Homo sapiens: one gene and its partner. The protein of the gene in region 2 purifies or fractionates together with the protein of the main gene of each other region. This does not show direct contact. Each region holds a gene or a part of one and is shown on either strand. Other genes may lie near its edges. The genes, in order: ADAR and STAU2.

Evidence for each region.
Region 1: the proteins of STAU2 (region 2) and ADAR purify together in Homo sapiens (affinity purification with mass spectrometry, with the first as the bait; one large-scale study listed by BioGRID). This does not show direct contact.

Annotation. Positions count from the first base shown.
Region 1 is NC_000001.11:154,591,182-154,595,001, reverse strand, and holds part of ADAR (double-stranded RNA-specific adenosine deaminase), read left to right. Parts: intron 1-3,820. UniProt on the Homo sapiens protein: Catalyzes the hydrolytic deamination of adenosine to inosine in double-stranded RNA (dsRNA) referred to as A-to-I RNA editing.
Region 2 is NC_000008.11:73,736,780-73,740,599, forward strand, and holds part of STAU2 (double-stranded RNA-binding protein Staufen homolog 2), read right to left. Parts: intron 3,090-3,820; 5' UTR 2,977-3,089; intron 1,571-2,976; 5' UTR 1,523-1,570; coding exon of another isoform or gene 1,505-1,522; intron 1-1,504. UniProt on the Homo sapiens protein: RNA-binding protein required for the microtubule-dependent transport of neuronal RNA from the cell body to the dendrite.

The DNA of each region.
Region 1 (3,820 bases), on a different chromosome or scaffold from region 2:
CATATGTGTGATTTATCATTGAACAAAACACTGTTATGCAGTACATGACTATACCAGTTTCTTGAGTCCTTCTAGAAATTGCTGTGCATAACTAGCACATTTTCCCTTTTGTCTTTTTAAACAAGTATATCTTCTGTTTTATACGTTGACTCCTTTACTTACCAGACTTCTTGCATAGCTGCATAGTATTTCATTGAATAGAAGCTGACAAATTCAGTTTCTCAGAAGTAAACATTTAATAGGGACTTAGGAACAGAAATGATGTCTTGGGTGGCTGCAAGATGGTGGATCCCTGCACTTACCCTCCAGAAAGTATGCTTTCTATAGAGGCTTTTTTGGTTAAACATGCAGCTGGTCACACATTATACTTTCTTGTGAAACTTATGAGCACTAGCTGGTGGGGAGGCTTGGTAGACATCTTTGTGTGGAATTATTTATGCTACCCAACACTTTGGGATGCGGGAGTCAGATATTGGTGGTCATAGTGGTTTTGCATCAAGATGGCATCACTCTTGCCATGCAACCGGCATGTTTTCTTAATCTCTAAGGTCTATCACAAAGTGGAAAAGCAAGGTGTAAAGTGAGGGGAGAGGTGAAGATTGTCTGTATATGTCTAGAATATTTTCTTGAAGGATCGAAAAAACTGGCAACTGTGTTTGCTTCTGGGGAAGGAGGGACACTTTTATTGTACACTCTTAACTGTTTGAATTTTCACATGTTTGGCATCCAACTTGTCCATTTTAAAGTCATTAAGGAAAAAAGCTTATAAAAATGCTATCTTGTTACTTTAAATTTGTCTCTCCTTAATAGAAGTAATGTCAGCCGGGCGCAGTGGCTTACGCCTATAATCCCAGCACTTTGGGAGGCCGAGGTGGGTGGATCATTTGAGCTCAGTAATTTGAGACCAGCCTGGCCAACATGGTAAAACCCCATCTCTACTAAAAATACAAAAAATAGCTGAGCATGGTGGTATGCCCCTGTATGCCAGCTACTCCGGAGGCTGAGCAGGAGAATTACTTGAACCCAGGAGGCGGAAGTTGCAGTGACCTGAGATTGTGCCACTGCACTCCAGCCTGGGTGATGGAGTGAGACTCCGTCTCAAAAAAAAAAACAAAAAAATCAGAAGTAATGGCATTTCATTTATTCATATTTATGTGTTATTTGCATTTCCTTTTCTGTGAACCACCTGTTCTTGTCCTTTTCCAGTTTTCTTTCAGATTGTTACTCTCATGGATATGTAAGAACTTTTAACATAATTTTTAAAAGTAGCCCTTTGCCCAACATGACCCAATTTAGAACACACATCTGCCCACTGTTTAAGCCATCTGGAAAAGGAGAGGCCCAGTCTCCCTCCAGCTGCTCTTCTACTAATTCATATCCTTCATCTCAATAAGCACCTCCTTATCTTTAAGCACAGTCCTTCAGATGATAGGTTCAGTGCATTTCCTCTTTCTCTTCTGTGAAATCTTCTGTGAAATCCTTTCTAGGACTTCAAGTCAGCCATTCATTGAGAATGTAAGAACTTACTATGAACTAGATGGAAGATACAAAAAATTGCTGCCCCTGAGTGTGTAGCAGACATATAGCCATAGCAGTATTGAAATGTGCCATTGGAGGTGAATGCAGAGTGCTGTGGGGACACAGAGGACACTGCTGCCACTGTCTGCCAGGGAGCTGAGGAAGGTTGCATAGAGAGGGGAAATGCTAATTGAGTAACTACGTTTATTAACTATCTCGTACAATAATATACTTTAGTTGCTTCTTAATGTGAATTATGCTGGGTCTTTTTTTCCTTTCTGTCTACTGTGGCTGGTGACGTTAACTAATTTTATGACTTCTTTTCTGTTTTTTTTTTTTTTTTTTTTTGGAGATGGAGTCTCACTCTGTCACCCAGGCTGGAGTGCAGTGGCGCAGTCTCAGCTCACTGCAACCTCCGCCTCCTGGGTTCAAACAATTCTCTTGCCTCAGCTCCTCGAGTAGCTGGGATTACAGGCATCTGCCACCACATCTGACTATTTTTGTATTTTTAGTAGAGACAGAGTTTCACCATGTTGGCCAGGCTGGTCTTCAACTCCTGACCTCAGATGATCCACCCGCCTCAGCCTCCCAAAGTGCTGGGATTACAGGCATGAACCACCGCGACAGCCATGACCTTTAATATCTAAATGCTGGAGACCACTCAGAGCTCCCGATTCCTCCATCTAGTTGCTTACTTGTCACCTCTGTTTGGATTAACATCCCTAATATGACATGTCCAAAGCAGAACTCTTGGGTTTTGCCCCCTTCGCTTCATTTCCCCCAAGTCTTTCCCAGCTTAGTAAGTGATACCACTGTCTACCCAGTGGCTCAAGTCAGAAACCTGAGGATCATCTTTTCCTCTATCTCCTTTACCTCCTTCGTCAACTCATCCTTAAGTCCTATTGGTTATACTTAGAATTTCTATCCCAAATCCCTTCCTCTTCTTTCCACCTCCAGCGTCAGCACTCTAATCCAAGCCACTGTCTCATCTAGACTGTCACAATAGCCTCCTAACTGATCTTTATACTTTATTTACTCAACACTTATTTATGGAGTATCTTCTATTTTTTTTAGAACAGGAACCAAACATTAACCAATAGTCACCTAAAGAAATGTAAGATCTCATATTTGATAAGTATTCCAAAGGGCTGGAGTTGCAGCGAGAATCAATTATAGCACAGTTTGACTTAGGAAGGAGAGGGGGAAGGGCTTCCCCAAGAAGTACTGCCTGAGCTGAGACTTTAAGGATGATGAAGAGAGAAAGACTGAGGGTTCTAGGCGAAGGACACTGTTAAATCCTGTGGTGGGAGAAGCGCAGAGCTGGCAAAGAGGCTGAGAGGAGGCACTTATGGCAATAGCCCCATTTGGCTAGTGGCTACCATATTGGATAGCACAGCTCTAAAGGATTCTAGTTGCATAATTAACAAACTTTATCATATATGTAAATATATCAGTATAAAACTTTGCACGTAAGAGTTCATATTCTTTTCAAACACATGGGGCAGTCATGAAATTCTCCTGGATCCCTGAGGTAAAGATACTACACAATCTGTCCCTCCTGACCGCCTTCACCATCTTCTTTTCATGCCACTGTCCCTCTCATTCTGAACTTAAGCCCACTGGCCTGCACGGGCCTGCCAGCATGGACAAAGAAAAGAGTGAAGGCATTTAGTTGCTTCGGATCATCAAGGAACAGTGAGAAACTCCATGTGGTTGAACATAAACGTTGATTCCTTTTACTGCCTGAGCTGCTAAGTCTTGAAACTGAAGCCTCTGTTATATGCAGTTAGAGTATCCAAAGCTGGGTTCTCAGCCAGTAGATTAGGATCTGGTTGAAAGCTAGGATTCTTGATGCCTTGTCTGGTACATTTCCAAGCTGTTTTGCTCCACCATGCTCTTCCCTCTGTGTTTGGAAATTACCAGCCGGAGCGGTAGAAGCCACCTCCCTGCTCCACTTGGGCACTTTATTGTCAGCGCAGCTCATGCGCCCAAGATCCATTCCTTACCCCAGAGTTAGCTTAAGCCTGCCAGGAGTCAAAAAAACAACTCCCAGCAAAACCTGGGTCCCTGGCCTAAGGCCGACCTTGACCTAATGACCTCTCCAGGTCAAGTCCCCTTGAGCTAATAGGAAGTAAATGAGGGAATGGAGTTGGGCGCTTTAAAAATCAGACAGTGTATGAAGTAACAGTGACTTGTGGGGAGAAAGGTAGTCCCTTCTGATTTCTGCTTAAGAAGAGAGTCCAAGTTGGTGCTAGCATTTCGTTAAGCCTTCCTCATACTTCATAATCTTCCTTTATAGTAA
Region 2 (3,820 bases):
TAGCTTAGAGATGGCATGGGATGCACAGGAACTGGAAATTTCTTTGGCAAGGTGAGCAGGACTATATGTCGGAAGGCAGGGGGTCAAGATTACTTTCTTTTTTTGGAACGCATCTCGCTCTGTAGCCCAGGCTGGAGTGCAGTGGTGTGATCTCAGCTCACTGCAACCTCCGTCTGCTGGGTTCAAGCAACTCTTCTGCCTCAGCCTCCCAAGTAGCTGGGACTACAGGTGTGCACCACCATGACTGGCTGATTTTTTTGTATTTTTAGTAAAGATGGGGTTTCACCATGTTGGCCATGCTGGTCTTGATCTCCTGATCTCAGGTGATCTACCTGCCTTCGTCTCCCAAAGTGCTGGGATTACAGGCGTGAGCGACCACGCCTGGCCAAGATTACTTTTGTTTTTTTTTTGAGACAGTCTCACTCTTTTTGCCCAGGGTGGAGTGCAATGGCACGATCTTGGCTCACCGCAACCTCCGCCTCCCGGGTTCAAGTGATTCTCCTGCCTCAGCCTCCCGAGTAGCTGGGATTACAGGCACGCACCACCATGCCTGGCTAATTTTGTATTTTTTAGTAGAGACGGGGTTTCCCCATGTTGGCCAGGCTGGTCTCGGACTCCCGACCTCAGGTGATCTGCCCGCCTTGGCCTCCCAAAGTGCTGGGATTACAGGTGTGAGCCACCGTGCCCAGTCGATTACTTTCTTAATCACAGGGGAAAAGAAAAAAAGTTTAATTACTTCTCTGTTGATTTGCAATCAAAAGAAATAAAAGTATTTTGTTTCTTTCCTTTTTTTTTTTTTTGTTTTTAAGAGACAGGGTCTTACTACGTTACCCAGTCTGGCTCAAACTCCTGGGCTCAAGAGATCCTCCCACCTCACCTCAGAAAGTGCTGGGACTACAGGTTTGAGCCACCCAGCCTGGCCAAAAGTATTTTCTAACACTATAGTTATGATACAATGTTCTATTTGATCGGGAAAGGTAAAATTAAATGTATAAAGTTCTTGGAGAAACGTCAAGAACTAAGAAAAGCACTTCTTTCAGTGAGTCTAAAGTATTAAATGCTGTAGTTTATCAGGGCACTTCCTTCTAGTGTTTTTCAGTGCCCTGGAAAGTGAACTTTAAAAAAAAAAAAAAAACAGATACAACTACTTCACAAGATTTGTCACTAAAAATGCTTTGAGTCTGCAGAACTGCCACCTACTGAAGCTGTATCATGATCATAAGCATTCTGAACACATTAACAAGTCCTAAAGGGATGTGACATCAAGAAGAACAGACAAACCTTCTGCCTTGCACAACCAGAAGTTATCAACTTTCAGAAGATCATTCTAATCCTTAAACAACCTGCCCTACACAGCCTCCAATGATGACTATACAGTAGGTAACTGCTTTAAAAAGTGATGAGTCAGGTTACAGTTATAGAAAAGAAAAGCTGAGTTAAAATGTTCCACAATTTACAGCCAAAGCACCATGTAAGCATGAAAAATGCCTTAACACAAACTCACCTGATTTATTTGAAGCATGTTAAGACAATATTGACCAAACTGCTGTATCCCTCACGGCTCCAAAAACTGGAAAACGAAAATGAAGAAATAAAGTTCAACTTAGCTGATAACCTCAATGACTGGTATTTTAAACACATGCCCTTGATCAAAATCAAATATAAAATGTAATTTATCCAGATCTCCATAGAACTTTCTATGATGATAAAAATGTTCTGTACTTGCACTGTCCAATCTGGAAGTCATTAGCCACATGTGGCTACTGAGCACTTGAAATGTGGCTAGAGCAATCAAGAAAATAATATTTAATTTTCTTTCATGTTCACTTGAATAACTACGTCACTAGTAGCCACCATACTGGACAGTACAGATCTGAACAAAGCTCCTTCTGCTTCTAGACTTCTAAGACAATCCCAACAAAAGTGAAGCTGTTAAAAATAAATCTGAGAGTTTCAGGTTAATATTTAATGTATACTTCCCTTTTTGCAGTCCTGTTTTAAACAGCTTTGTTCCCATCTTCTATACGATAAATTAATCCTAAAGAAGATGCAACACCACAAGTATTCTCTTAGATGGTATGGAAAAGAGCATATAGTACAATTATCTTGCTGAATAGTTTCTTTTTCTCTGTCATTTTGTCTGTTATCATCAGTATAAAAATAGTATGTATATTAAAATTTCAGGCTGGGCGTGGTAATCCCAGCATTTTGGGAGGCCAAGGTGGGTGGATCATTTGAGTTCAGGAGTTCGGGACCAGCCTGGCCAACATGGTGAAAACCCTGCCTCTACCAAAAATACAAAAATTAGCCAGGCATGGTGGCGCGTGCCTGTAATCTCAGCTACTCAGGAGGCTGAGGCAGGAGAATTGCTTGAACCCAGGAGGCAGAGGTTGCAGTGAGCCGAGATTGCGCCATTGCACTCCAGCCTAGGCGACAGAGCGAGACTCCATCTCAAAAAAAAAAAAAAAAAAAATTTTAATTTGAAAACAGATGCCAATGAAGGGCAGGAAAGTCCAAATTACAAATAAATAAATCATGGGATCTTGTAATGAAAAAAAGTTTATATAAAATATAAATTATATACAGACCTCTCCCCTAAAAATTATCTAAAGCAACAACACAATTGTGATACACAGCAAAAGGCCTATATCTAATCACCTGTATAGAAACTGTTATGCTGCTAAATTTTAATATTGAACTTTCCCCTGGAAGCAAACGTTTTGTAAGTACACACATACATACACAAACACACACCCATATTTGGCTACCATTTTTTCAAGATGACAAACTAGAGTCCATTCAAAATGACTTTGAAAACTTTAATATTTTTCTTACAATAGTGTCCTCAGCATCTGCATCAATTTTTATTTATTTTCTAATTACTGTCACATTTCCTATGAGAACGGGATGCTGTATAAAGAGCACACGGCCTGGATATTGGTGAATTTGAGTTTTAGTCAAAGTTCTTCAGATTACCTTCTGAGCCTTGGTTCAAATTACTTTGTGTATCTTTGAGTTCTTCTTTTTCTGTCTTCTTTTTTTTCTTCAATCTTTAAAAAGTAAGCTAAAGTCCTTGTGGTAGGCAGCCTCTAACAAATAGAATATAGCAGAAATAATGAGATACCACTTCCAAGATTAGGTTATAAAAATTCTTAGGTGTCACCTTCTCTCACTCATTTGCTCAGAGGGAGGCAGATGCCAAACTGTGGTGCCCTTTGGAGAGGCCCATATGGCAAAGAACTGAGAAAAGCCTCTGGCCAACAGCCAGCAACAATTGATTTCTTCAGTCCAAGAGCCCCAGGAAACTGAACCCTGCAAGAGCCACATGAATGAGTTCAGAAACAGATCTTCCACCAGTAGAGCTTCCAGATGTGACTGCAACCCCAACTGACAGCTTGACTACCACCTCTTTTATGAGCCACAGGCACCCAGCTAAGCTGCACCCAGATTTCTAACCCACAGAAACTGTAAGATAATGTTTGTTGTCTTAAGTCCTTAAATTCTGGTGCAATGTGCTATGCAACAATAAATAAGACTATCCTGTCCAACTCTATAATTCAATATTCCCATGGTGCTTTAGGTATTAATTAATATTTGGATAGGCAAAAAAATAAAATAAAATCCCTGTTCAACATGAGCAAATGAGTAACATTAGAACTTCAAAGTGGCAAATTATAAAACTTAAACATTTATATTTTCAATTCAAAAAATGAGATTATTCACAAGTGTAGCATTAGTCACATGGTGTTAAAATACACCCGCTTTCAATAGGAATGGAGTATCTCATTAAAAAAATACACTAGCTATAACTTAAAATACA